2 linked regions of the Homo sapiens genome follow. The protein of the gene in region 1 interacts with the protein of each later gene in a pairwise test. Each region holds a gene or a part of one and is shown on either strand. Other genes may lie near its edges.

The links.
Region 2: the proteins of RMND1 (region 1) and GALNT6 interact in binary tests that used the Homo sapiens proteins (3 or more experiments, as listed by UniProt).

Annotation. Positions count from the first base shown.
Region 1 is NC_000006.12:151,417,716-151,433,201, reverse strand, and holds part of RMND1 (required for meiotic nuclear division protein 1 homolog), read left to right. Parts: coding exon 1-47; intron 48-3,024; coding exon 3,025-3,064; intron 3,065-5,619; coding exon 5,620-5,720; intron 5,721-9,570; coding exon 9,571-9,677; intron 9,678-10,596; coding exon 10,597-10,661; intron 10,662-11,880; coding exon 11,881-11,957; intron 11,958-15,486. UniProt on the Homo sapiens protein: Required for mitochondrial translation, possibly by coordinating the assembly or maintenance of the mitochondrial ribosome.
Region 2 is NC_000012.12:51,370,428-51,385,913, reverse strand, and holds part of GALNT6 (polypeptide N-acetylgalactosaminyltransferase 6), read left to right. Parts: intron 1-2,331; exon of another isoform or gene 2,332-2,453; intron 2,454-3,404; exon of another isoform or gene 3,405-3,601; intron 3,602-6,029; 5' UTR 6,030-6,132; coding exon 6,133-6,623; intron 6,624-8,546; coding exon 8,547-8,719; intron 8,720-15,486. UniProt on the Homo sapiens protein: Catalyzes the initial reaction in O-linked oligosaccharide biosynthesis, the transfer of an N-acetyl-D-galactosamine residue to a serine or threonine residue on the protein receptor. May participate in synthesis of oncofetal fibronectin.

The sequences.
Region 1 (15,486 bases):
GAAAATTCTGCAAAAGAAGGTGATCCTGGAACAATATTCTTCTTCAGGTAAGACAGGAAAGAAACCCCATTAGGTGATGATGGGTTTGGGTCAAGTAATTGTGGTCTTTAAAGGTGCAGGCATACCTTTCTTAACAGTAAATGTGTTCAAAATGTATTTGTGATTTAAATTTATCATTTAATTCTTATTTAATCTAGGAGAGTTTGTCACTTTTAGGAATTCTCTGGTAAACCCTCTTATAAAGTAAAGAATATTTCAAACAAGTGAATGATCTTCCCCGGGGTGTCTTTCTTTGTAAATTCGGATTTTCATGGACTAAATTTCTGGAAAGCAGCCAATTTCCCATTCATCTTTAGTGCCCCTTGTCAGACTCCTGCCCCAGGGAAACTCCCGCTACCTCCCTGCTGTCTCTTCTTGCCATTTTCTTTTTTTTCTCCCTTCCCCTTTGGTAGCTCTTTAAAGTTTTAGCTTACCTCTCCAGAGGTTTTAGACTAGGAGACTCACATACACACTTATTCCTTTTATCTAAAGGCCGACTCAATACTAAATACTCCACAGTAGCTGCCTGGGAATGATAACATGATAGAACCGTGTGAAATAATCTCATTTATCCTCAGCACACCGATGAAGGTCTATTTTGCACCTGAGGAAACTGAGGGTCATAGGGATTGAGTTACCCATAGTCATGAGACTAATACGTGACAGAACAGAAACACATGGACCATCTGTAGGAATCCAAAGTTGAGTAAAGTTCTTGTGGTCATAATCCTTATAGTTGATGATAAGTGGAAGTTCTTTTTTCCTTTCAATGCCTACCTTCCTTTTGACCCCATCTTTAGAGAGAATCAAGATTCCAACATTTAATTCAAGTAGAGTAATAGCATCCCTGTTGTTCCGAGTGAGGAATTTAGATTTGTGAGGGACTCTACATCAGCACTGTCTAGCAGAAATACAGTGCAAGCCTCGGCTGGGCACGGTGGCTTATGCCTGTAATCCCAGCACTTTGGGAGGCTGAGGCAGGCAGATCACAAGGTCAGGAGTTTGAGACCAGCCTGGCCAACATGGTGAAACCCTGTCTCTACTAAAAATACAAAAAATTAGCCAGGCACATGGTGGAGGGTGCCTGTAATCCCAGCTACTCAGGAGGCTGAGGCAGGAGATTCACTTGAATGCGGGAGGCGATGGTTGTGGTCAGCTGAGATCGTGCCATTGCACTCCAGCCTAGTGACAGAGTGAGACTCTGCCTCAAAGAAAAAAAAAAAAAGAAAGAAAGAAATATAATGCAAGCCTCATATGTAATGATACATTTTCCAGTAACCACATTTTAAATATTTTTAAAAAGATAAAATTAATTTTGAACAACACAAATATGTTTCTTAACATATTAACATGAAATTAATTTAACAATGTATTTTATTCAACCCAGCATATCTAAAATATTATCATTTCAACATGTAATTAATAATGATATTTTTTCACTTGTCATACTAAGTCTTTGAATTTTGCTGTGTATTGTACACTTACAGCGCATCTCAGTTTGCACCAGGCATGTTTCAAGCACTCAATAGCCACATGTGGCCTCTGAGTACCACATTGCACAGCACAGTGCATTCCTCTGGTTGGAGGAATATGCAGTTCACCAGACCTCTCTTCTGCCTGGAAGGGATTCTCTGAACTGATACTGTGGCTGTGGCTTGAAATACCTCTCAAATCCGTATCCTGAAACCTTATCCCTGCCTATTGTAACAGCTTATTGTCTCCCTGCCTGCCTGCTCACCCACCACCAGTCTGTTTGTCTATTGTAAGCAGGGTCATTCTTCAGTGGCCATTTCTGACCACTACACTCTCCTGCCTAAATTTCCACGGACTATGAACAAATTCTCTATCACTGCATAAAGTTCCCTTCTGGATTGTCCCCTGCTTGCCTCTTTATCCTGCTTGCCCACTGCTTGACCACATCTGCAGCCACGCAGCTACTGGCTGTTTATTCTGAGATGCTGCTCTGCTCCGTCCCACCTCCTCTCTGAGCCTGTGTGTCCCCTCTGCTATGTTGTCTCCTCTTGTTTTCTCATTTGGCTGCCTCTGCTAGTCCTTTAGCAAAGGGGTCCCTCTGGTGTACATCTCATGGTATACTCTGCATACTCTTGTAGCACTGATCACACACTATTGTAATTGGTGGTCTAAGTGTCAGTCCCAGTCTTTTCTAGATTGAGGATAGGAATGAAATCATACTTATGTTTCTATCACAAATACTAAGCATGGACCCACACATATACTAAGTACTTTAGAAATGTTTCAAGAATAACGTGGAGCCATTAATATTTTTACCTTTCTTTTATTTCCTCCTTTCCTTCCTCCAGTGCACTGACCCTGAGCTATAGCTCCTGTTTTTATTTACTACCTGAAACAGCTTCAACACGTCAAACTTGAGAAATCAAAACAAATGCATTCGTAGTTTTAGACCCTAAATAATGTTAAAGCCATAATCGGATTCAGAGGGCCTCCTGTGGTGTCACTGTAGTTCTGTTCCAAGCACTGTGAGCGTGGGGAGCATTATTCCATAGAGGCCTTTAACCATCTGATGCTTAAATTAACCACCATCTCTTTATTCCACAAAAATCCAGGCATAGCCCTTTATTCCTTGCACATAGTAGAGTCTGCCTAATGAGAGCTAAGACAAGGTCTCAAAAAATTTCCTTATTCTGATTTCTGTGGATCAGAATTGAACCAGGTATGAAAGAGTCTACATACGTGAAGTTATATAGTATTACAATAATGGCTATTTGTTTGGCAAACCATGTGAGAAATCATAAATTTTGAGGAGGTCAGGTTTTATCAAGAATTTTATTTTAGCTCTTATTGTAGGAAGTTCACCTAAGGACCATAATATCAAATTAGTAAGTACCATCATATTTTGAAAAATCGCATCCTGTATACATTCTAGAAGTTACATGGTTTTATATACGACCCTAAAGAATGTATTCCATCTGTATCTTAGTTGTTTCTTTTATTTTTTTAAATCAGGGAAGGAGCTGCTGTGTTTTGGAATGTGAAAGACAAAACTGTAAGTGTAAATAAAAATGTGAAAATATAAAAATTTAGTTTTGTGAGAATGAATTGTTAATTAGCACATACTGAAACATTAGAAGGGAAATTAATAGATTATGCACAACTTATTTGCTCTGCATTACATGATACTTATCAGTTTCATCTTCCAAAATATATTGTATTTTGGGTTAAGATTTCCTGCTTTTTCCTTTCTCTAGACACACACTAATTTGTGGAGAATCAGAACCATCCTAACTATACTGCAGACAGAAGTACTGTAGACTTTGCATGTTGTACTATACAAAATGTATGCAGTTAATTGGAAGCTGGTTGCATTGAGTGTTCTTTTAAGTCAAGTTGTCTAGAACTTACTACTCATGGGAAATAATTTTTTCAAGATCCAAATCAAGATTTGTTTAATACAACCATTTTAGAGGCAAATTGGTAATCTACATTAAAGCTTTATATTTAACCCAGTAATTTTACACCTAGAAATTTATCCAAAGGAAATAATCATAACTATTCGTGATGATTTTTGTACAAAAATGTTCATCAGAGCAATATTTATAATGGCAAAAATTAGAAATTACCAAAATACACAATAATAGTTTGTTAAATCATCCATATACTACAGATATACTATAGATCCCCTTAGAAATCATGTAAAAAAATATCTATTTCTGGGAGATTGCCTATATATATAATACAGTTACATTAAAAGAGCAGATTATACGGCCAGGCATGGTGGCTCACGCCTGTAATCCCAGCACTTTGGGAGACCAAGGCCGGCAGGTATCTTGAGGCCAGGAGTTCGAGACCAGCCTGGCCAACATGGTGAACCCCATGTCTACTAAAAATACAAAAATTAGCTGGGCGTGGTGGTGCACACCTGTAATCCCAGCTACTCGGGTAGCTGAGGCACAAGAATCGCTTAAACCTTGGAGGCAGAGGTTGCAGTGAGCCAAGGTCAGACCATTGCACTCCAGCCTGGGAGACAGAGGCATACTCTTGTCTTCAAAAAAAAAAAAAAGCGGGTTACAAAATATAACCAATATAATCTCAGAACTGGTTAAAAAACATGCTTTATACAATCCCAATTTTACGAAAAGGAAACACACACAGTAGGTGGTCGGGAAGGGAACTTAGAGAAAAGAAAATATAAATGACCAATAAATTTAAGAAAATACAAGTTGGCTATTTGAAGTTGCAAAGATGTAAAAGGCTGATAAACCCCATTTCTTAAGAGTAGTTTCATAAATGTTGAGATTCTACATTTGGAAAAACTACTTTGGAGAGCAGGCTAGCAATATTATAAGTGTGGGCCAGGTGTGGTAACTCATACCTGTAATCGTATCACTTTGGGAGTCTGGGGTGGGAGGATCACTTAAGCTCAGGAGTTCCAGACCAGCCTGAACAACACAGTGAGATCCCATCTCTACAAAAAGTTTTTAGAAGTTAGCCAGGTGTGGTAGTGTGTACCTGTAGTCCCAGCTACTTGGGAGGCTAAGGCAGGGGGATCGCTCGAACCCAGGAGTTTGAGGCTGCAATGAGCTATGATTGCATCACTGCACTCCAGCCTGGGTGACAAGGTGAGACCCTGTCTGTTACATATATACATATTGTGTAAGTCCACATATCTTTTGATCTAGCAATTCCTAAAGAAGTATTCCCACAAAGCCATGAAGACCTTTGCACAAGTGTGGCACATCGCAACATTGTAATGGAGAGTAGAAAAAATTCCCCATGGAGGACACACCTAGGTTGGTTAAATAAATTGCAGTTCGTCTGTAAAGGAAAATAGTGTTGAAAATGTCATGTGCATAATATGATCCTATTTTACATAAAAAGCAGCATAAATATGTACATATATACACATAAAAAGTCTGGAAGGATATGCACCAAGTTTAATCATGGTTGCCTCTGGGGATTAGGATTTCAGTACAGAAGAGAGAAAGAGATGATCACCTCCCACACCTGTGTGGCTTAATTTTTTATTAGTATGTTGGGCTTTACTTTTTATTTTTTATTTATTTATTTTTTTGAGATAGGGTCTTGCTCTGTCACACCGGCTGACATTGGCTCACTGCAACCGCCACCTCCCAGGCTCAAGCCAGCCTCTCAGGTAGCTGGGACTACAGGTGTACATCACCACACCCAGATAATTTTTGTATTTTTTTGTAGAGACAGGATTTTGCCACGTTGCCCAGGCTGGTCTTGAACTTTTGAGCTCAAGGATCCACCCGCCTCTGCCTCCCAAAATGCTGGGATTATTAAAGAGATTTAAAGAATACAAATTATAATATTACTAGTGATTTTCCTTGGGTTGTGGGATAATGATAACCTTGATTTTCTTCTCCATTCTCATCTGTGTTTTCCAAATGTAAAAACAAATGAACATGTCATCCTGATTACTTTAATATCACAATGGATTTGATTTGCCTTTTCCTTAAAAACATGCAACAGAAATAATGCCTGTAAGTGTAATGAAGACTGTTATAAGCATTAAAATCATAACATACTTGAACTGAGGGAGTCAGTTATGATTTCAGATTAATCTTCCTTTTCTTCTAGATGAAGCATGTGATGAAAGTTCTAGAAAAACATGAAATTCAGCCCTATGAAATCGCACTGGTACACTGGGAAAATGAAGAACTTAACTACATAAAAATAGAGTAAGCAACTTTTCATCAAATTTATGAAAGGGGCACTTGGAATAAATTAGGTAAAGCAATAGAGGAGACAAATTATTATGCATATGGAAACTTTTTTTTTTTTTTTGAGACGGAGTCTCACTCTGTCGCCCAGGATGGAGTGCAGTGGCACAATCTCGGCTCACTGCAACCTCTGCCTCCCGGGTTCAAGCAATTCTCCTGCCTCAGCCTCCTGAGTAAGTGGGACTACAGGTGTGCACCACCACGCCCAGCTAATTTTTTGTATTTTTAGTAGAGACAGGGTTTCACCATGTTGGCCAGGATGGTCTGGATCTCGACCTGGTGATCCGCCCACCTCAGCCTCTCAAAGTGCTGGGATTACAGGCGTGAGCCACTGGACCTGGCCTGGAAACTTACTTTTAAGAAAAAAGTGGCCAGGCGTGGTAGCTCACACCTGTAATCCCAGCACTTTGGGAGGCTGAGGCAGGTGGATTACCTGAGGTCAGGAGTTCAGGACCAGCCTGGCCAACATGGTGAAACCCCATCTCTACTAAAAAATACAAAAATTAGCTGGTTATGGTGGCGGGTGCTTGTAATCCCAGCTACTCGGGAGGCTGAGACAGGAGAATTGCTTGAACCTGGGAGGCGGAGGTTGCAGTGAGCCGAGATCACGCCATTGCACTCCAGCCAGGGTGACAAGAGTGAAACTCCGTCTCAAAAAAAAAGAGGAAAAAGATTACTGGTACAAATACAAAGTCTAAACCATATAATAAATATTAGAAGATAAACATAATTTTTTGAACTTCTCAGGCTATCCACAAGTTAAAACAAGTCAGTAGTATAGCCCCAAAATGGAAATGTTAAGTTTCTAATCAGCCTAATCCAATAAAATAGTATGCATTTATCAAATGAACCTATCAAATTATTCCAGTAAATTTTTCTCTTAATCCAGTTTTTTCCTATTGATTTTGGGGGGTGGGGGTATGAAAAGGAAGTATAGTGAGGGGTCAATCTAAGAGACCCACTTGTAGAAGTGTGGGTGCTGGAAGAAGTGGGACCTGGTGTACCAGTTTCACTAAGATAAATGGGTAGGCAACAGACTAGCTGATTTTCCTGACTCAGCCAGAGGGAAAAAATGAAGAGATGTTAGGGCCGAGACAGAGGCAGTATGAACAAGATGGTAGTGTCTTTTTCCTCATGGAGTTACCTGTCTAGTGAAATATGAGTCTTTGCAGGTTCTTAAGAAAGGTAGTGTTAGCCAGATTTGGTGGCTCACACCTGTAATCTCAGCACTTTGGGAGGCCAGGGTGGGAGGATCAACTGAGTCAGGAGTTCAAGACAGCTTGGCCAACATGGCGAAACCCCATCTCTACTAAAAATACAAAAATTACCCGGGCATAGTGGCGAGTGTCTGTGATCCCAGCTACTTGGGAGGCGGAGGCGGAGGCAGAGAATTGCTTGAACCTGGGAGGCAGAGGTTGCCATGACCTGAGATCGCACCACTGCACTCCAGCCTGTGCAACAGAGTGAGACTCTGTCTCAAAAAAAAAAAAAAAGCGTTAAAAGCAGAGCTTTGGGAAGACTTGGAAGAGAGACAGAGACTAGCTATAGAAAGACCAGATGGGGATAAGAGCTGAGTAATCAGCGCTCACCACCAATAGGGCCAGTCACGGTTTTCTAAGTAAGTGCCTTCCATGTATTATTTCATTTAATCCTGGGGAAAACCCTATAATTGCAGCTAACTGGCTTTCCGATGAGATTTATTGAATCCTGTCTTGCCAAAGGGCACCTGACTGTGAGTCAGCCTGAGCCCAGTGGTGGCTGCAGTCAGAGGTAAGGATATAAACCTGAGAGAGACAGCAAATGAGCAGCCTGTAGTTTTATTATCTTTAGTAGTTACTCAGCCCTTGGCCTGCAGATACAGCTCCTGTGAATCCCCTTTCTGTGTTCTATTAGGTTTACATTAAAATGGCAAAAACCGCGATTACTTTTGCACCAACCAAATACTTCCATATCCAACTACTGCTAGACCCTTGTGTGTGTGTGTGTGTACGCTTATCCACACACACACACACACGTTACTGTACAGTCTGTGAGGAGTAAAATCCTCAGTGCTTAGGATCCCAGAGTCAGTTATTTTGTTTCGTCAGAAAGACTGTCCTGGCTGCCACCTACATGGTTATTATGTGAGTTCTGCCATGATTCCAGGGATCTGCTCAGCTCTGTGGCATGGGCCCAGTTTACTCATAAAGCATCTTGTGACCAAGCACAGTGGCTCATGCCTGTAATCCCAACACTTTGAGAGGCCAAGGCGGGCAGATCACTTGAGGTCAGGAGTTCAAGACCAGCCTGGCCAACATGGTGAAGCCCTGTCTGTACTACAAATATAAAAATTAGCTGGATGTGGTGGTGCACTCCTGTAATCCCAGCTACTCAGGAGGCTGAGGCAGGAGAATCGCTGGAACCCAGGAGGCGGAGGTTGCAGTGAGCGAAGATCACGCCACTACACTCCAGTCTGGGTGACAGAGCAAGACTCCGTCTCAAAAAAAAAGACCTCTTGTGACTGCTGTCTTTGCTTTCCTTCCTCCATCTGAGGCTGTCATAGCAGATGCCGCCCTCCATCAGGCCCCTTGTCCCCCTCCCTTTGGCCGTCACTTCTTGTCTGACATCTTTTGTGAAGGTTTACCCTGTCTTTTTTCCATTTGCTTGTGATGTTTATATTCACACATTCCGCTCTTCCCCTGTCCCCTGTCTAGGATTCTCCACAGTCACATACTCATTTTTCACAACTTCCTTGCCTCCCTCCCCAACCCCATCATGTCAGTGTGATTTTAGATTACACTCCATATATAGTTTTATATGCAGCATTTTTTCACATAGAAATTTACTGTGAACGTTCTCCTTTTTATTAACTATCCTTCCAAAACACACTTTTAAGTTTTTCTTGTGTGGAGTGACTATTACTGAGCCAACCCCTACTGAACATTTGGTTTATTTCCTAATTTTTTACTCTTAAACACTGACCTTTTTTTTTTTTTTGGAGACAGAGTCTTGCTCAGTCTCCCAGGCTGGAGTGCAGTGGCGTGATTTCGGCTTACTGCAAGCTCCGCCTCCCGGGTTCACTCCATTCTCCTGCCTCAGCCTCCCGAGTAGCTGGGACTACAGGCGCCCGCCACCACACCCGGCTAATTTTATTTTGTGTTTTGAGTAGAGACGGGGTTTCACCATGTTAGCCAGGATGGTCTCAATCTCCTGACCTCGTGATCCACCTGCCTCGGCCTCCCGGAGTGCTGGGGTTACAGGCGTGAGCCACCGTGCCCAGCCAACACTGACCATTTTTTTAAAAGTTTTCAGCTGGGCAAGGTGGCTCGCACCTGTAGTCGCACCACTTTGGGAGGCCGAGGTGGGTGGATCATTTGAGGTCAGGAATTCAAGACCAGCCTGGCCAACATGGTGAAACTCTATCTCTATTAAAAATACAAAAAAAATTAGCTGGGTGTGGTTACGCATGCCTGTAATCCCAGCTACTAGGGAGGCTGAGGCAGGAGAATCGCTTGAACCTAGGAGACTGAGGTTGCAGTGAGCTGAGATCGCACCACTGCACTCTAGCCTGGGCGGCAGAGTGAGACTGTCTCAAAAAAAAAAAAAAAAGTTTTCTTGTATACAAATTTTTCTTTGCATCTTAGATTATTTCCTTAGGATAAACTCCTAGAAAGGGAATTACCTGGACCAAAGGATATGAGAACATTTGTAACACTCTTGATACAAATTGTCAAAATGACCTCCAGAAAGATGATATGGTGTCTTTTTCAAAGGAAAAGTTAAAGTGCTTTTTAAGATTTAGAAGGTATTATCTTTTTGCTTTTCACAGGGGACAGTCAAAACTTCACAGGGGGGAAATCAAGTTAAATTCAGAGCTGGATTTAGATGATGCCATTCTAGAGAAGTTTGCTTTCTCCAATGCTCTATGCCTTTCTGGTAAGTTACTACTGCTTATGGGATAGGGTACTACAGTTGTCATTTCACTGAGGGAAGTTTAAATAGTCACGATTTTGGTATATTTTCAGAATACTCAACAAAGCCTTAGCATTCCTTTTCCTTTTTTTCCCTCCATCAGAAAAAATATCTAGTATAAAAGATAGTACTGTGCTGAAGTTACTCATTCCTTATTAATTGTATTAATAAAGCTTAACCTCTCCAAAAGTATTTTTTAGATGATGATTATATTAGCCTTTGTTTTTTTCTCTTCTCTCTATGCGATTGTTATTCTTAGATAGTCTCTAATCCAGACAGAGAAGCCCAGCCTTGTGTGACTGGGCACAGGTCCCAGTGTAGAAAAACATACTCTAGTGTTCCATAGGAATGGGACCCAGAGTCACAGTGGCTATAAGTTTGTTCTGAAAGATCCACATCCCGAATAAAACTATACAAGTTCTTTAAGAATTTCTTTTGCCAGCAGTCTACCTTAGGTGGCTGCTGCAGCGTCCTGTCCATCCCACTCTGAGGGGCTTCGGAGATTTCTGAGGTTTACTCTTAGTCCTGAGGAGTGAAGGGGAGGCCAGGAAAGTCTTAGTCGCGCCCTATCTGCAGAGCTACCCATGGTATCAAGGTGTACCCTACCCTCCTCAGTTTCCAAGATGTAATACTAGAAAATCAAGAGTTCTACTAAATGTAGCTTTGGTCTTCCAATAGGGCATGGAAAGCGATTCAGTTTCCTCTATCCACTTTAATTCTGTCCTTTATGATAATTAACTATTCTTAAATTATATTTTCAAGGTTTTAGTACTTTTTCTTAAACTATTACTGAAATAGTAGTGAAGATGCTGTGCAATTATGTATTTTATATACATGTGAATATGATGATAAAGAAATGTTCCATTATTAATTTTTTTCCCAGTAAAACTGGCAATTTGGGAAGCATCACTGGATAAATTTATTGAATCTATTCAGTCAATTCCTGAGGTAATTATATCAATTTTATGCTTATTCAAGGATTGATTTTTATATGTAAAAAATATGAATTTCCCAATATAACAATATATAGCTATCCATCAGTATCCATGGGAGATTTGTTCCAAGACCCCACTGGATACCAGAATCTACCAGTGTCCAAATCCCTGATATAAAATGGTATATATTTGCATATAACCTATGCATATCCTCATGTATACTTTCAACCATCTCTAGATTACCTAAAATACCTAATATAATGTAAATACTATGTAAATAGTTGTTATACTGTATTATTTAGGAAATAATAACAAGAAAAAACAGTTTGTACATGTTCGGTACAGATGCAACCATTCTTTTTTCTCAAAATACTGTCAATTTGCAGTTGGTTGAATCTGCAGTTGCAGAACTTATAGAGGGCCGATTGTTTAGGAGTACAACAACATTATTACAAACAATAAGAAAACTACAGTAAACTTAAGAACTCCCAGTTACATATAAAATGACAAATTAAGAAACTTCATATTGATTACTTTTTACTTTTTAAAACTTCAAATTGTTTCCTCTGTTGGTGCAGTATTTTTTTTTTAATATTAATATAATTGAAATGGGGTCTGGCCATGTTGCCCAGGCTGGTCTTGAACTCCTGGGCTCAAGCGATCCTCCTGCCTCGGCCTCCCAAAGTTCTAGCATTACAGGCCACGAGCCACCATGCCCGTCAGTTGCAGTATTTTTAATGTAACTGAATTAAAGAAAAAAGTGAAATGTTTCTCTCTGAGAATGGAAATTATGACCACTTTTCCTGATTTAAGAAAGTGTTTTGCTAAATTATGAGAAAAATAGTGGTATGAAAAATACATATAAAGTTATATTGAAATTTCAGTATACATTAAAAATCATCATATTGTAATTAACTGTGTCTTTATTGTGAAAGAGTAATCTAATTATACTTCGGAAAGGAGGCCCTGCTTTTCTACTAAGAGATTAGGAATGTATATATCATTGAAAATGCTGATGAGAAGGGAAATGAAAAAAGAGAATATACAATTTCTACCTAATAAAATTATGAAATTTCAAGGTGAGTTAAGACATTAATCTGGGAGACAGCCATCCTAAAAAATATTTACATAGGATCCAAATTATGCCACTTCAGATTTTGCCCTGTTGACCTAATGCTTATTAGAAAGAGAGATACATGGTTTTTTGGTTTTTCCGATTCCCTCTCAACTAGGCTTTAAAAGCTGGGAAGAAAGTGAAACTATCTCATGAAGAAGTTATGCAGAAAATCGGTGAACTCTTTGCTCTAAGGTAAAAGTTTTCTCTCTAAATAAAATATTTCATATATTTAACAATCTCAAGAAAACATTCCCATAGTTCTGTGGTGAAGAGCAAACATTTACACGTTTATGGGAACTGTAGCTGTTTTCATTTCATTGATTATAAGCAGGGAGAACTCTTACCCATTAGAAGTAGTTGGGCTGTGTTAAGACTGTACTGAAAGAAATCACGCATGTGCAAAAGAGATCACGATTCATCTACATTAAACCCACATTAAGGAGCACAGTAGGTGTTCTTTGAAGGTAGAAAGACATATTCCTGAATTTGGTTAATGGGAATTCTCTGTAAAAATATATCACTGCATCATAATGCTAAATAGGCTTAATTGCTACAGAAAAGTTTCTTTGAATCTGAGACACCAAGATGCCACTGGAGAGAAAAACTGCTGCCAGTTAAACTATGACAATACTTTTTTTATCAGAGGATTAAAATTTTACACTTACTGAAATATCTTTTAATCTTAGCTGGATATAAATTATATCACATTCCCTCTTGGGCATATATGAAAAGGAAAGCATAAGAAAATAAATTATTTAAGGCAAAGACAAGTAAGTCTCAAGTGCCACCTGTCAGACACCATTAATTTTAAGATGCCTCGAGATGTTAAAATGGGAATAACTATGTCTAAAAACTGATGAATCATTTTAAATAAGTATCTGGAAAGGTTTTCAGCTTTTATTATTCTTGTAGTTGTCCCAGGATTTACGGAATGAAACATCCCGGATGTTGGTGTTTTTCTCACAGGCAGCATTGTCCAGTTTATCCCTTCTAGCATGTGGAATGAGTTACCAGAGCTCACTGCAAATGTTCACCTAAGACTTGTTTTTCCATATTCTCCTTAGATGCTCTGCCTGGAGAGAAGTGATACAGTGTTTCATTGTCTGTGTATCTCTCATAGCTCAGGACCTATAGTTCAGGGTACCAACAAAACTTAAAAACCCATCCATCAGGAGCATCCTGCAGCATATCTGAAGCCTCAAATTCTCTGAGAAGTAGGGTAGAGAGATTCTTCTCTCCTGTTCTCTTGGTCATGCAAGCAGAAATTGATGTAGTGAATTATAATATCCAAACTGAATAGTTAGGACTAAATATACGTAGGTTTGTGAATAGTTTCTATAAAGGCTTACTTTTACTATCCTGTTTCCTTACCTGTACAATAAAAATGCTTATTTGTTAATATAAGGAATGTGATACATCTGTGAAAATAAACATGGCAGATAATATTAGATTAAAAAACTAAATCTAAATTTATATAGGGTATGATCCCATTTGTGTAAGCAAATAAAAATATTCATGTTTATCTTTATATGCATACACATGTACATGTGTTTGCTTGCACACACATGCATGTATGAATACAGAAAGATCTGGAAGTACACAGCAAAGTGTCTCTACAGGCCTGTCCTTGGGGAGAATAAAGGATTTAAGTAGTGTGGTAGCATAAGAGAGCCTACCATTTTTCTGAATCCTTCTCTAGGATATTTTCCTTTTTTTTTTAATCGTGAACAGGTATGTATGTGTTACTTTTTTTTTTTTTTTTTTTAAACAGGGTCTTGCTTGTCACCCAGACTAGAGTGCAGTGGCATGATCATAGCTCACCAAAGCCTTGATCTCCTGGGCTCAGGGATTCCTCCTGCCTCACCCTCCTGGGTAGCTGGGACCACAGGAGTGCTCCACCACACCCAGCTAATTTTAAAAATAATTTGTAGAGACAGGGTCTCAAACCCTTGCTCAAGCAATCCTCCTCCCTAGGCCTCCCAAAGTGCTGGGATTACAGGTGTGAGCCACCACATCAGTTTATGTGTACTTTCATAACTTAGATTTTTATTTAGTTAAACATCTAAGTGTAAGGCCAGGCACGGTGGCTCACACCTGTAATGCCAGCACTTTGGGAGGCTGAGACAGGTGGATTGCTTGAGGCTGGGAGCTCGAGACCAGCCTGGCTAACATGATGAAACCCCATCTCTACCAAAAATACAAAAATTAGCCAGGAATGGTGGTGTGCGCCTGTAATCCCAGCTTCTTGGGAGGCTGAGGCATGAGAATTGGTTGAACCCAGGAGGCGAAGGTTGCAGTGGAGCCAGGATCATGCCACTGCACTCCAGCCTGGGCGACAGAGCAAGATTCTGTCTCAAAAAAGAAAAAGGCTGGGCACGGTGGCTCACATCTGTAATCCCAACACTTTGGGAGGCCGAGGCCAGTGGATCATCTGAGGTCAGGAGTTCAAGACCAGCCTGACCAACATGGAGAAACCCCATCTTTACTAAAAATACAAAATTAGCCGGGCGTGGTGGCACATGCCTGTAATCCTAGCTACTCGGGAGGCTGAGGCAGGAGAATTGCTTGAACCCAAGAGGTGGAGGTTGTGGTGAGCCAAGATCGCGCCAATACACTCCAGCCTGGGCAACAAGAACAAAACTCTGTCTCAGAAAAAAAAGTAAGCACAGACTTCTTATATTAAAATGTAGAAATTAAGAGAGAGAGTGTGTATGTTTATGCTTGCTTGTCTAGTGTTTGCATAAACACTGGAAGGATACAGCGGAAACTAGAAGGGATTACTGATAGGGAAAGATACAGATAAGAATAAGAGTTAAGATTTATCAATTTTTACCTGTTTATATCTTGATCTGCTCAGGAGGCTGAGGCAGGAAGATCACTTGAGCCCAGGAGTTTGAGGCTGCGGTAAGCTATGATTGTGTCACTGCACCCCAAACTGGGTGACATATGAAGACATTATCTCTAAAAAAATTTTTTAAATAAAAAACAAAAAAGTGTGGACATATTAAATTTTTTTTTTATTTGAGATGGGGTCTCACTATGTTGCCTAGGCTGGAGTACAGTGTCACAGTCTTGGCTCACTGCAGCCTCTGCCTCCGAGGTTCACATGATCCTCCCACCTCAGCCTCCCAAGTAGCTGGGACTACAGGCATACACCACCACACCTGGCTAGTTCTTGTATTTTTTGTAGAGATAGGGTTTCGCTGTGCTGTCCAGGTTGGTCTTGAACTCACAGACTCGAGCAATCTGCCCGCCTTGGCCTTCCAAAGTGCTGGGATTACAGGCATGAACCACCATGCCTGGCCCTAAAATTTTTAATAAAAAAAGTTTAGGCTGGGAATGGTGGCTCACACCTGTAATCCCAGCACTTTGGGAGGCTGAGGTAGGCAGATCACGTGAGGTCAGGAGTTCGAGACCAGCCTGGCCAACTTGGTAAAACCCTTTACTAAAAATACAAAAAATTAGCCAGGTGTGATGGTAGGCACCTGTAATCCCAGCTACTTGGGAGGCTGAGGCAGGAGAATTGCTTAAATCTGGGAGGCAGAGGTTGCAGTGAGCTGAGATCATGCCATTGTACTCCAGCCTGGGTGACAAGAGTGACTCTGTCTCAAAAAAAAAAAAAAAATTGAAAACAAAATGAGTTTTTTTCTGTGTACTTCATAAATAATGTTGGTATTAAAGATTGAATTAATTTGGTTCAGAAGTTTGAAACTCATTTGTA
Region 2 (15,486 bases), on another chromosome or scaffold:
GCAGAAAGCTGTGTTCATGCCACTACACTTCAGCCTGGGTGACAGAGTGAGACCCTGTCTCCAAGAGAAAAAAAAAAAGTTTATGGAACACCTGCTATATGTAAAACTTGTGCTAGACTTTGTAGGTGATAAAAAGCTGGAAATGGCATGGCCTCTCTGGTCCAGGAGTCCATAAACACAGGGTGGGCTGTGATGAGACTGGAGTACAAATAAAAATCGGGTGCTAAGGGGGCAAAGCAGGGAAGAGATGAATTCTGCTGGGAGATCTGAGAAGGCTTTTTGGAGGGGGGCTAGAATATAAACTGTGGGGTTTGGACTGTGTCACTGGCTTTCAAACTTCTATGACTTGACCAAAGTGAGAAATATACTTTATAGCGAGACCCGGTACCTGTGTATATGTGACAGGGCATCCCAAAAATCTTAGGGCAGTTTTATAATTTAATCACATTACAAGCATAAATTCTGCAAACCATAAAAACTATCATTTGAAAATGGAATCATTTAAACTTCTTTTGTCTTTAGTTGTATGAATTTTGAATAACAAATTTATCATTTTAATTTTGTATCAGGCAGTGTGTATCTTTAATAGACTGAAACAAACATTAAAATAAAAGTTTACTTTTCAGGCTGGACATGATGGCTCACACCTGTAATCCCAGCACTTTGGGAGGTCAAGGCAGGAGGATTGCTTCGGCCTAGGAGTTGAAGACCAGCCTGGGCAGCATAGTGAGACCCCCATCTCTACCAAAAAATAAAAATTAGCCGGTCTTGATGACACACACCTATGGTCCCAGCTACTCCAGAGGCTGAGGTAGGAGGATCCTTTGAGCCCAGGAGGTCAAGGCTGCAGTGAGCTGAGATTGCACCACTGCACTCCAGCTTAAGGAACAGAATGAGACCCTGTCTCCAAAAAAAAAGAAAGAAAGAAAAAACGAATACTTGCCTGTGTTACATGTGATACATGATGCACTTTGATATTTTCTTTTCATTCTATTCTGGGTTTTTAAAATTTATTTATTTTTATTTTTTGAGACAGGGTCTCGCTCTATTGCCTAGGTTGTAGTGCAGTGGCATGATCATAACTAACTACAGCCTCAACCTCCTGGGCTCAAGCAATCCTCCAGCATCAGCCTCTCAAGTAGCTGAGATTACAGGCCTATGCCACCACACCCAGCTAACTGGTCTCTTTTTGCTAATTGGTCTTTTTTTTTTTTTTTTTTTTGAGACAGAGTCTTGCTCTGTCACCCAGGCTGGAGTACGGTGGTGCTATTTCTGCTTACTGCAACCTCCAGCTCCTAGGTTCAATCAACTCTCCTGCCTCTGTCTCCTGAGTAGTTGGGATTACAGGCACATGCCACCATGCCTGGCTAATTTTTGTATTTTTAGTAGAGAAGGGGTTTCACCATGTTGGCCAGGTTGGTCTTGAACTCCTGGCCTAAAGTGATCTGCCCACCATGGCCTCCCAAAGTGCTGGGATTTCAGGTGTGAGCCACTGTGCCTGGTCCTAACTGGTCTTTTAAAGAAATTTTTGAATGCTAATTTGCAACACTCTGAATTTATTTTATAATATCACAGTGGATTGTAATCAGCAGTTTGATACAAGCTGGGCTGGGTAAAGCCTCAGTTCCTTACACCAGTGAGAGAAGGTAAGTTTGTGTTCTGGCCGGTGGGGCCAGGGAAGCAAATCCCATTTGTTCAATCTAGGCAGGCTTTTCAGAGAGGATTTCTGGCATCATCTCGGGATCAAAGCCAAGGATGGTCCAAAGAGTTGCAGGCCCAAGGGTAGCTGGAGGAAAAAGACTTGGGAAGAAGTGCTGAGCCACAGCGAGAGGGAAATGAGTGGATGGGGGCTGCGGGCACACTTGCCAGGAAAGCAGGAGGCCAGGTGTGGGAGCCCAAAGGTGAGGGAGATATACAAGACACCAGGGGCGGATCTCGTGAAGCTTTGTACTTGAAACAATAGCAAAGAATAGCAGCTATTCTTTCTCCAAGGCTGGTGGAGGGGCGACCTCCACGACCTTGCTAACCATACTTCTGGGAATCATCTCCTACACAGGGAGCAGAAATCCTTAACCCCAAAGTCCTGTGGCTTGCACTAGATTCTGTGTCTCTTCTAAGGGACTCTTCCTGTTGCCCTCATGCTAAGCAAACAAACTAGAGAATGAGTGCCTCACCACCAAGGCTAATCCCAGGTGTCTCATTTCGGTTCAGGATGTGGTTAGTACCTTGAGGAACTGTAGGTTTGAGAGAGAAAGCTTCAGGCAGCCAGATGGGATTGAGAGATTAGATGCCTAGGAAGAGCTCAATTTAACCCTATATTTCTTTCTCCAGGGAAAATAAAAGAAGCAAAAACAGGCCCTGCTGTGAGGGACCACGAGGCAGTGCCAGGATGAAAGAGTTGGAGTAACCTAGGTGATTCTGAGTGAATCAGTCAGGAGGCCTTCCTGGAGGGGGTGAGTCTTGAGCACTGGCAACAGTTAGTAACTACAATCTTACCATGCCTTTGTTTCTAACTGTGCTCCCTCTTTCTTGCTGGAGTGGGAAGGTAGATGGAAAGTAGCAGGGAAGACGAAGCCTGCAGGACGGTTCAAAGCTGTCATGGCAAACACTCCCCCATTCTGCAGGCCTCTGTGTGGGCTTAGCCGGGACAGTTCCAGAACTGATGAGGTGTCTAGCTCAAGCAAATCCCCCTGTGCTAGCCCCAGCATAGCTCAACCTCTGTGACAAGAAACTCCTGCTACACTGAATCCCCATTTCCTCCCCGAAGCCTTCCTCAAACCCACAGGGAACTCTACCTCTCTCAGCTTAGCTCTTACTGTCTGTGCTATTCTGCTTTAATTTTATTCATTTTTGAATAAGTAATATAGTCAGGGTTCAAAGTACAAAAGAGTATTCAGTGAAAGGTCCTTTTCCTGCTCCTGAATCTCCCCTGGTCAGGTGCTTCCTTCACCTGGTCAGTGCTATCAGTTCTCGTTCTCCAATAAGATTTTCAAATCCCTTGGGGAAAGGAATTGAGCCTTTGTGTCCCTCTGTGTACCAGACGGGGTAAACTGTCCCACCCCATCACCCAAGGGGGTCTTCCTAGGCACCATACCCTCCCTCTTCCATCCACACTGCTACTAACTCTCCTGGGTCAGACTCCGAATGGGTCATCCAGCTGCCAAGCAGGTCCCTTTCCAAGATACCCTCCACCGCTGTCATATTGCTCTTCCTGTAATGCTGGGCTCCCAGCTTAACGCTTTATTACTCCCCATGCCTTGGGTCAAGGGCAAATGCTCCTCAGCATGATGAACAAGGCCCTTAGGACTTGGTTTCAGCCACCTCTGTAGGCCCAATTTCTGCTACTCCTGCCATACCAGACTGCTTACAGTTCTGTGACTGGCTCTTCTGTCTCCCACCTCTAGACCATTGCAGGTACTGTGCCTTCTGCCTGAAATGTGCTCACCTCGCCTCGCTGACTCCTACTCGCCAGTTAGTGTTCGGCCCATTTCTGCCCCCGTGAGATTTCTTCACAGATGTTGCCCTCCCCCATTTGCTGAGTTTCCTGCATGCCGGCTCCTTCAGCACTCAAGGGTACCTCTTTGATTCTGCTTCTCACAGGGTAATCTCTGTTTAAAATCTGATGCCCCCAATTGACTGTAGGATCCTTGAGGGCTGGCCTTGCACTTCTCTGTGTCCCCCGCCTCTTGCAGAGTACCTGGTAGAGGCAGTTATTCAGTAAATACTGGTGGAATAAACAAATCTCTCCTATCTCCTAGACAATAGTTAATACAAAATAGATGCTCAAAGAGATTTCTTTTGTTTGATTTTTGACGGTGCTGCTGAATCTGATGTTATAAAAGAAGCCACATTTGTACCCCAGTCCAGAATGAATCCACCTCCCCACTTGAGATCACGATGGCCACATACTCCCAAGGTCTCAGACACCAGGCCTCTCCACAGGCAGGAGCTTGTGCGTTTAAACAATAGCATTAAATAGTACAACCAGAGTTATTTTTAAGCAAAACATGCAGGGAGTAATGAACGTGGCTTTGGCCAAGGGCCAGGTGCTTGAGGATAACTGCTGGGAAGTGAAGCAGGGATTTATCATAATAATAGAAATAGTTGATACCATTTATTGAGGGCTTAGTGTGACAGGTGCTCTGCCAAACATTTTACCTACATTATCTGATTTAATCCTCCCCACAACCCTGTGAGTTAGGTATTAGTTGCCCCCACTTTATAGATGAGGAAATTGAGGCTTAGAGGGATTAAGTAAATTACCCAAGGGTCACACAGCTGCTAATGATCAAAACTAACACTTTGTGGGAACTTACCATGTGCAGAGACTGCTAAGCTTTGTCCATGAATTTTGTGGGGAAGGAGCATAATCCTTGTAACAACCCTAGGAGGTAGGTGCTACTACTAGAAGAGGAAGAACTGGAATTTGTGCCCAGGTCCCTTGCCATTGATGTCTAGTGCTTAACCAGTGAGCTTATGTGTCCAGAACTCTGCACAGAAAGTTCTGCAAGCATTCATCCTCTAGGGCATGGATCCACATGCCTGGGGGTGGAGCCTGGTGAACGCCCATGCCCAGCCCTGCCGGGAATGTCTTGTCATGAAATCTTAGGTTTCTGTTAAATTCTTTTTTATTAAATAGGAGTAGATTACAGATAACTTTTATTTATTTATTTTTAAAGACAGAATCTCTCTCTCGCCCATGCTGAAGAGCAATGGTGCGATTATAGCTCACTGCAGCCTTAACCTCCTGGGCTCCAGCAGTCCTCCTGCTTCAGCCTCCCAGGCAGCTAGGACTACAGGTGTGCACCACTACGCCTCGCTAATTTTTAAAATTTTTTATTGAGATGGGCTCTCAATACGTTGAGCAGACTGGTCTTGAACTCCTGGGCCCAAGCGATCCTCCCACCTCAGCCTCCCAAAGTGCTGGGATTACACCATGCTTGGCCAAGAAATATTTATAAAATACGTATAGGGTCTAAAGAATTACAGTCCACCAGCAGCCGCCATCCACTTTGAGAAAAAAACACTTTGAAGTCCCCCATTAACCATCTCTAATCCTGTACCGTTTTCTTCATCTTCAGAAACTGGTTATGTCATTTCTTTAGCTTTCTTTTTTTCGTGGGGAGACGGAGTCTTGCTCTGTTGCCCAGGCTGGAGTGCAGTGGCATGATCCTAGCCTACTGCAACCTCTGCCTCCCGGGTTCAAGTGACTCTCCTGCCTCAGCCTCCCAAGTAGCTGGGATTACAGGCATGCGCTACCACGCCCAGCTAATTTTTGTATTTTTAGTAGAGACAGGGTTTCACCATGTTGGCCAGGCTAGTCTTCTTTAGCTTTCTTTATAGCTTTATCACATATTTGTATTCAAGAACAAGATATTGTTTAATTTTAGCATGTTTTTACATTTTCTATAAGTGGAATCATACTGTATGTATCCTTTTGTCACTTGCTTTTTTCACCCAACAACACATCCACATTGTTGCATGGAGAAGTGGTTCATTCTTGGTCATCACTGTAGAGCACTGCACGGTATGGGTATTTTGCACTTTATTTATTCATTCTGCTAGTGGACTTAAAGGTTTTACCAGTTTGTTGCCATTTAAGTCAGTGTTGGCTTAAATGTTCTTGTACATACCTCTTGGTTTGCATCTACCAGAGTTTGTCTGGGATATAAAATGAGGAGTGGAATTGCTGGCTCAGGCTGTGTTCATTTCAAATTTTTCTTGATAATACCAAGTTGTTTCCCAAAGCCATAATGATTAAATCTCATGAGTTTAATGATTAAATCTCATGTAGTGTTTCAGTGTTCCAGTGACTCTAGATCCATGCATATTAGGATCTTAGGGCAGGAAAGAAACACTGCCTCCGGTCTCCTCATTTTATGGATGAAGGAAATGTAGATATGGGAAAGTTGTGGCCAATAAGGTGATGCCACCACTCAGCAACAGAGCCTGGCCTCGAACCCCAAGCACCCGACTCCCTCCTTACCCTGTGTTGGCTCACTTCTCTCTCTTGTCCCCTCCTTTCTCAGGCTGAGGCCCCAGCTTGTGGCCACCACAACGTATCAAGCTATCTCCAGGGTTGGGCTCAGGACTCAGAGCTGACGCAGCTGGGGTGCCCCTTGGTTCTGGAGGATGAGGCTCCTCCGCAGACGCCACATGCCCCTGCGCCTGGCCATGGTGGGCTGCGCCTTTGTGCTCTTCCTCTTCCTCCTGCATAGGGATGTGAGCAGCAGAGAGGAGGCCACAGAGAAGCCGTGGCTGAAGTCCCTGGTGAGCCGGAAGGATCACGTCCTGGACCTCATGCTGGAGGCCATGAACAACCTTAGAGATTCAATGCCCAAGCTCCAAATCAGGGCTCCAGAAGCCCAGCAGACTCTGTTCTCCATAAACCAGTCCTGCCTCCCTGGGTTCTATACCCCAGCTGAACTGAAGCCCTTCTGGGAACGGCCACCACAGGACCCCAATGCCCCTGGGGCAGATGGAAAAGCATTTCAGAAGAGCAAGTGGACCCCCCTGGAGACCCAGGAAAAGGAAGAAGGCTATAAGAAGCACTGTTTCAATGCCTTTGCCAGCGACCGGATCTCCCTGCAGAGGTCCCTGGGGCCAGACACCCGACCACCTGAGTAAGTAGCACCCAGAGTCCTTGTGGGGAGACCAGGGCTTTGCTAAAGGCATGGCTAGTATGGCCAGGGCCATAGATCAAGGGCCAGAGAAAGAGTTGAAGGGAATTTTATAATATGGGCAAGGATCTCCTCTATGCCTCACTTCTTTCCCAGAACAACTGTGCTGATCCCAGGGGTTGTGATTCAAGGGTATTATGGTCAGGCCAGAGGCCCAGGGAGACCTGTGAGAGTGAAATGCAATTATGAAAGTGAGATGATGTGGAAGAAGGAACTCAGCCTGGCACCAGGACCTGGCACGGGGTGACTGGGGAGACCTGATACCAAGCTGTGGTTTCAGTAGCTTTCTCCTCTACTGAGGCCTGCTCCAGAGACTGTGGGACTCTAATGCTGAGCTGTTTGGGGGGGGGGTGGGCATTTCTTAACAGCAACCCTGGTGGTTAGGAATATCCTCACACCTGGTTTCCTCCAGTGAAGGCCCACAAGGCCGGAATTGATTCCAACCTTTATCTGAAGTTGTTTATAGCCTCAATCTTGCACAATGAGATCTCACTTAGATCTTTGAGTGGCAGCCCCCTCCCTCTAACGCCCCCATGGCTGCATTCCCATGATCCTCAAGTTAAAGACAGTGTGTCTTCCCCACTTAGCCTTTGTCTTTTCCAGGTCAAGTGTTATACCCTATTTGGCCTTTTCTCAAATGGCAGCCCTCATCCCCAGATTTCGTGAGTCTTTAGGGCTGTGAACCTGAGGTTCTTGAGACTTGAGCCAAGTATGATAGCCCTAGAACAAGGGGCCACTTGAAGCTATCAGGAATTCCTCAGCAGAGAAGGGCACTGGGGCCAGGCACAGTGGCTCATGCCTATAATCCCAGCACTATGGAAGGCTGAGGTGGGTGGATCTCTTGAGGCCAGGAGTTCAAGACCAGCCTGGCCAACATGGTGAAAGCCTGTCTCTACTAAAAATACAAAAAAATTAGCCCGGCATGGTAGTGGGTGCCTGTAATCCCAGCTACTCAGAAGGCTGAAGGACAAGAATCGCTTGAACCTGGGAGGTGGAGGTTGCAGGGAGCTAAGATCATACCACTGCACTCCAGCCTGAGTGACAGAGCAAGACTCTGTCTCAAAAAAAACAGACAGAGAGAAGAGCACTGGGTGTGACAGCAGCCAGAGGAGGAAGACAGGGAATCTCTCTGGAGGGTCCCCAAGAAATCCTCTGACCAGCAGAGGAGGTCAAGGAAAGGGTGTGAGGTCACATGATTCCTTGAGATCCAGGATTCACACATTCCCACCCCAACCCTGAGATAGAGTGTCAAGAAGGTAGCAGCATGGCCAAGTGCCACAGAGTAGCTGGAGTGGATGAAGTTGGAAGAAAGGTTGCAGGAAATTGACTGTGATAGTGGTGTCAAATCACAGGGAGTTAATGAGAAAATGGATTAGAGAGGAACTGTACGCTGTAAAGGGAAGAGCCTTTTCTTCTCATTGAGTATGGAAATCATAGTCACTTTTCTCAGATGTCAAATTTGGCCTTTATTACCTACCCCTCTGGGACCTCTGGATTGGATTACATTTTATGCAGTTCACATATTACGGAGGAAGAGAGCCAGCCCTGGGAACTCCTAGCCTGAGAGCAGATAGCAGATGAAGGAAGGGGGTGGAGGAGCCTCAGCATCACAGCTGGGGCACTGAGCCAGCTCTGTGGGGATGGATTTTGGAGTGGTTTGGCTAGAACCTGTGCAAAGGCTCAGGGTGGGTGGCAGATACCGGGGAAGACAGGAACAGGGAACAGCTGTTCCCACCTGCTATAGAGAATGTAGGCTGTGGTTCAGAGGAGTGGAGGATGGTCTGGGGGAGTCTCTGGATGGGGCCCTCCCCACACCTGGTACTCCCAGGGACCAGGAGAACTTTGTCCGTACTTTCATACTTCCAGGTGTGTGGACCAGAAGTTCCGGCGCTGCCCCCCACTGGCCACCACCAGCGTGATCATTGTGTTCCACAACGAAGCCTGGTCCACACTGCTGCGAACAGTGTACAGCGTCCTACACACCACCCCTGCCATCTTGCTCAAGGAGATCATACTGGTGGATGATGCCAGCACAGAGGGTGAGGCTGGAGGGGCCCAGAGGAGGGGGCCGGGGTCTCCCCTGGGCACTCAAAGGAGGAGGGCAGTTCCTTTCAAGGGAGCAGGCACCACCTCATGAGCCTGTTGCCTGACATCACAGCTCATCTTAAAGGCCAGGAGCAGGAAGAAGTCAGGTAGGGGCAGGTAGACCATGCTTCCTTCACACCTCAGCCAAAGAGCTCCAAGAGCTTTTCAGCTCTGGCTTCAAGACTCCCTGAACGCTGCCAAGGCCAACCCTAACTCAGAAATGCTGGGAGAGACAGGGCAGAGGGTAGGGACAGGCCTTCACCTCTGTTTCCTACCCGCTGGGCCACTCTTCTGCTCTTGAAGACTCCCCAACCAGCCCTTTTTGCCATAGCTGTTGATAGGTAAGTGGGGTTGCTCACCAAACTTCCAGCCTTCAATTCCACAAACATCTACTGAGTACTGTGTGCCTGGCTCTGACCCAGGCAGAGGGGATGCCATGACAAAGGAGACAGACCCTGCCCTGAAAATACTAAAAACCCCCATAGGTCAGAAGCCTTTTTTTTTTTTTTTTTTTTGAGATGGAGTTTCGCTCTTGTTGCCCAGGCTGGAGTACAATGGTGTGATCTCAGCTCACCACAACCTCCGCCTCCCAGGTTCAAGCGATTCTCCTGCCTCAGCCTCCCTAGTAGCTGGGATTACAGGCATGTGCCACCACACCCAGCTAATTTTGTATTTTTAATAGAGATGGGGTTTCTCCATGTTGGTCAGGTTGGTCTCGAACTCCCGAACTCAGGTAATCTGCCTGCTCCAGCCTCCCAAAGTGCTGGGATTACAGGCATGAGCCACCGTGCCCGGCCAGAAGCCTCTTACAACACTAGCCACAGTGCTGTGGCAGTGATGCACCTGTAACAGGTGTGAAAGGGCATGGACTGCAGAGTCCAACACCTAGGAATTCAAATCCCAGCTCTGACCCTTCCTAGCTCTGTGACCTTGGACAAGCATTTGGCCTCCCTGAACCTGTTTCCTCTTCAAAAAATGGGGGCAGACCGGGCACAGTGGCTCAAGCCTGTAATTTCAGCACTTTGGGAGGCTGAAGCGGACAGATCACTTGAGGTCAGGAGTTTGAGACCAGCCTGGCCAACATGGTGAAACCCCATCTCTACCCAAAATACAAAAAATAATTAGCCAGGTGTGGTGGTGCGCGCTTGTAGTCCCAGCTGCTCGGGAGGCTGAGGCACAAGAATCACCTGAACCCGGGAGGCGTAGGCTGCAGTGAGCCAAGATGGCACCACTGCTTTTCTGCCTGAGAGACAGAGTGAGACTCCTTCTCAAAAAAACAAAACAAAAAAAAGGACTGGGCGTGGTGGCTCACGCCTGTAATCCTAGCACTCTGGGAGGCCGAGGCAGGCAGATTGCTTAAGGTCAGGAGTTCGAGACAGCCCGGCCAATATGGTGAAACCCCGTATCTACTAAAAATACAAAAATTAGCCAGGCGTGGCAGAGCATGCCTGTAGTCCCAACTACTCGGGAGGCTGAGGCAGGAGAATCGCTTGAACCCAGGAGGCGGAGGTTGCAGTGAGCCGAGATCATGTTACTGCACTCCAGCCTGGGCTACAGAGTGAGACTCCATCTCAAAAAAAAAAAAAAAGAGCAGTTGAGTCCCTTACATGGTGGGTGAGGGATATGAGATAGGTCATAAATGAGATTCATGTGCCACAGAGTGGCTGGCATCAAGTAAGAGTGTCACAAGCATGCATTCCATTTTATTCATGGTACGAGAACAATGCACCATGGAGTATGTAGCCAGGAGGTGCCATTTCTGCCTGGCGTGGCTAGGGCTGGTCTGCAGTGGAAGCCAGATTGGAGCTGGGCCTTAAAGGATGAGTGTCTAAGAGAGAAGAGTGGATGAAGGGCATTCCCACAAGAGAATGGCATAAGCACAGTCCTAAAGACATGAATGTGTTTGTTAAAGAGATCTGGTGTGGCTGAAGCTTAGGTTTGTTTAGGAAATGAGACTTAAAAGATGTTAAATTGGCCAGGGACAGTGGCTCACCCCTGTAATCCCAGCACTTAGGGAGGCCGAGGCGGGTGGATCACTTGAGCCCAGGAGTTCAAGACAGCCTGGGCAACATGTCAAGACCTTTTTTCTATAAAAATTACAAAAATTAGCCTGGCATGACGGCATGTGCCTGTAGTCCCAGCTACTCGGGAGGCTGAGCCAGAGCATGACCCTGTCTCAAAAAAAAAAATGTTGAATTGACATTCATGTCATGCTAAAAGCATTTATTTAGAAAGTAAGAAGGAGTCGTTGAAAGTGTTTCATCTGTACTGTGACTTCATTTCAGAAGGATGGCAGCTTTGGAGGAGGATAATCGGCAGGAAGAGAGGCAGAGGACTCACAGTCTGGAGAGGAAGTTCTTACACTCACTTGAGAGTAGGAGATGATGGGGCCTGAACTAGGAAAGGCTGTGGGACTGAGACACCTTTAGGCTGAGAGTCTCCACAAGCTTAGCCCTCCTCGTAGGAGGCATGTGGTGTCTGGGGCTCTCCCAGATTGACCTCCTGTGCTCAAACTCCCAATAGTGAGGGCAGGAACTGACTCCACACTTCCCAGTGTAAGCGCTGGGGCCACTCCAGTAGAGCTGCTTCCTGTCCTTGTCCTCCCCCAGCCTCCCTCCTTCCTCTAGGTTAGGGGTGATGCTGAAAAGAGGACTAGGGCTGTGGAAGGAAGGGCTGAGTGTGAGCCCTGTTGAGTTCATTTCTTCAGGAAGCTCACATCTTCCCAGGGAAGACAGATACTTGGCAGCACTTATAAAGCAAGGCCAGACCAGCCTGGGCAACATATCAAAATCCCATCTCTACAAAAATAAAAAATTAGCAGGCATGGTGGTATTTGCCTGTGGTCCCAGCTACTTGGGAGGCTGAGGTGGGAGGATCACTTGAGCCCAGGAAATTGAGGCTGCAGTGAGCTGTGATTGCACCATTGCACTCCAGCATGGATGGCAGAGTGAGACCTTGTCTCTAAAAAAGATACAAATAAAGTAAAATAGGCCAAGCACAGTAGCTCATGCCTGTAATCCCAGAACTTTGGGAGGCTGTGGCAGGAGGATTGCTTGAGGCCAGGAGTTCAAGACCAGCCTGGGCAATGTCACAAGACCCCATCTCTATAAAAAATAGAAAAGTTAGCTGGGCACGGTGGCATGTGCCTGTGGTTCCAGCTACTTGGAGGGCTGAGGTGGAAGGATTGCTTGAGCCCAGCAGGCTGAGACTGCAGTGAGCCTTGACTGCACCATTGTACTCCAGCCTAGGCAATAGAGTGAGACCCAGTCTCTAAAAAAAAATAATAAATAAATCAAGGCAAGCAAGTATCAGGGATGCAATGACAGGGTCTGGTGGACAAGGAATGTATAGATTAGGCTTCTGGAAAGGGAAGGGTGAAGAGTTTGGCAGAGATGGGAGGAGCTTGGCAGTGATCTCTAGGGAATCTTTGTAGCAATGGAAAGGTTGTATGGAATGGAAGCAAGCATATTAGCGGTCCTTCCTCTCAAACTGGGTTCTTTCGTTATCTTTCTCCTCCTAACCCTATGCTACCCATCCTTCGGAAGCTCTTTCACCTGAATCTCTTGTACTGGAGTGTATTAGTCCATTCTCATTTATAAAGGAGAGAGGTTTAATTAACTCACAGTTCTGCAGGGCTGGGGAGACCTCAGGAAACCTATAATCATGGCAGAAGGGGAAGCAAACATGTCCTTCCTCATGAGGTGTCAGGAGAGAGAAGAATGAGAGCCGAGCAAAAGGGGAAGCCCCTCATAAAACCATCAGATTTCGTGAGAACTTACTATCACAAGGATAGCATGGTGGAAACTGCCCCATGATTCAATTATCTCCCACTGGGTCCCTTCCATCACATGTGGGGATTATGGGACCTACGACTCAAGATGAGATTTGGGTGAGGAAACAGCCAAACCATATCATTTCACCACTAACCCCTCCCAAATCTCATGTCCTCACATTTCAAAACACAATCATGCCTTTCCAACAGTCCCCCCAAAGTCTTAGCTAATTCCAGCATTAACCCAAAAGTCCAAGTCCAAACTCCCATCTGAGACAAGGCAAGTCCCTTCCCCTATGAGCCTGTAAAATCAAAAGCAAGTTAAGTCACTTCCTAGATACAATGGAGGTATAGGCATTGCGTAAATACAACCATTTGAAATGGGAGAAATTAGCCAAAACAGAGGGGCTACAGGCCCCATGCAAATCGAAAATCCAACAGGGCATTCATTAAGCCTTAAAGTTCCAAAGTGATTTCCTTTGACTTCGTGTCTCACATCCAGGTCACGCTGATGCAAGAGGTGGGCTCCCGTAGCCTTGGACGTGGGGGTTCTAAACTGTTAACTTTTCACCCTAAACTTTGTGACTCTGTGAGCTGCAAGTGCCCAGGTAGGCAACTCCTCTGACTAGCTAGACAAGTGACATAATGCCAGGCTGGCATAGGCAGCATCTAACAGGCAGAGTAGCCTGTGTTCAGTAGGGCAGAGTTGGCAGTAGCCCCAGTATCCCCTCCAGAGCACCCGCCCCTAGCAGGCCACCATATACACGTTCACCTTCTCTCTGTCTGTCCTGGACTTGTTGCCCTGGACTCTCTTCTAAAGCCAATTCTCTCCAAAGGCCAATTCCAGCATCTCTAAATCATCTGCATGGTCAGGACGCACTGGCTCACACCTGTAATCCCAGCACTTTGGGAGGCTGAGGTGGGAAAATCACTTGAGCCCAGGAGTTCAAGACCATCCTGGGCAACATAGTAAGACTCTGTCTTTACAAAAAAATAAAAAATTAGCTGGGCATGGTGGTATGTGCCTGTAGTCCCAGCTACTCGAGAGGCTGAGGTGGGAGGGTCACCTGAACTCAGGAGGTCAAGGTTGCAGTGAGCCCTGATCATGCCACTGTATTCAGCATGGGTGACAGAGCGACACCCTGTGTCAAAAACAAAAACAAAACAATCACCTGCCTGAAAAACCTAAGCTAGTCATTCTTATTTTTCTGGGTCCTGGCATCCTTTCAGAATCTGTTAAAATCCCTAGAATAGTGCACCACTGCCCACAATAATATGCAAAACCCACATTTTTGCATTTAATTCCAGGGAATTTGTGGACCCTATGATAAACAACCCTACCCAGAGGGCTTTCAGACGCTAGAGATACTTTAAGCAACATTCAGTTCAGTGAGGAAAGGAGGAAAAAACCCTCAGATCCATGGTCAGAAATCTCTGCCGTCCACAGTGGGATAAAATTTCCCACACGTTTGACTGTTTGATCAGATTAACCAGCTCTCATTACACACACACACAAACAGGACTGTGTCTCTGCCGAAATACAATGTCCCTGCTCTCTGACCTCCACTCCAGGCACCCAGTAGTAGCCCTATGAGAGTGAGTCTAAGGGCATTTGATACCATGGGGGAGGAGACCGCGTGCTGAGCTGGGGAGCTTTTTCTTCCCCACCTCTGAGTCAGAACCAGGGCACAGACCTCATTCCTGAGTGGCTAGGTCAGCAGCCAGGGTTCCCTCCCTGTCTGGCACACTCCACCAGCTTAACTAAATTAGAGGGAAAAAAAAGAAGAATGCAGGGCAATGGGTTAGTGAGTGAGTAATTAGGGAGCTCTTTTCACCGGAGTAGCCAGGAAAGACTACTCTTAGTACTCCCTGCAAAGGGAGCAGCCAACACAGAGGCCTGAGGCTTGACTTGTTAATGAGGCAGAAAGAAGACAGTGTGGCTTAAACAAAGTAAGCCAGGGAGCAGAAAGAGTGCTGGTGGAGTGGGTGTAAGGAGCCGGGCCCATGGCTCATGCCTGTTAATTCCAGCACTTTGAGAGGCCGAGGCAAGAGAACCCTTGAGGTCAGGAGTTTGGGACCAGCCTGGCCAACATGGAGAAACCCCGTCTCTACTAAAAATACAAAAATTAGCCAGGCATGGTGGTGGGCACCTGTAATCCCAGCTACTCAGGAGGCTGAGGCAGAAGAATTGCTTGAACCCCGGAGGCGGAGGTTGCAGTGAGCTGAGATCACACCATTGCACTCCAGCCTGGGCGACAAGAGCAAAACTCCATCTCAAATAATAATAATAATAATAATAATAATAATAATAATAATAATAATTTTTTAAAAGGCTAGCGGGACCAAATTGTGAGACCTCCGTAAGCCACCGACAGTGTTTGGATTTTTCATGTGTGTATGTAGTAAAAGGCACGACATAAAACGTATCATCTTCACGGTTTCAGTCCACAGTTTATTGATTTTAAATGCATTCACATTATTGTGCAACCATCTCCGGAACTTTTTTTTTTCCCTTTTTTAATAAGATGGGGTCTCACCATGTTGACCAGGCTGGTCTGGAACTCCCAGCCTCCCAAAGTGCTAGGATTACATGCGTGAGTCACCACAACCAGCCAATAACTTATTTTTTGTCATCCCAAACTGAAATTCTGTACCTATTAAACATGAATTCTCCACGCTGTCCTCCCCACAACCCCTGGCAACCACCCTTCTACTTTCTGTCTCTATGAATTTGATTATCATAAGTGGAATCATACAGTATTTGTCCTTTTGTGACTGGCTTATTTCACTTAGCATAATGCCTTCAAGATTCATCCATGTTGTAACATTTGTCAGAATTTACTTTATTTTTTTTGAGATGGAGTTCGTTCTTGTTGCCCATTGGCGCAATCTTGGCTCACCGCAACCTCCACCTCCTGGGTTCAAGTGATTCTCCTGCCTCGGCCTCCC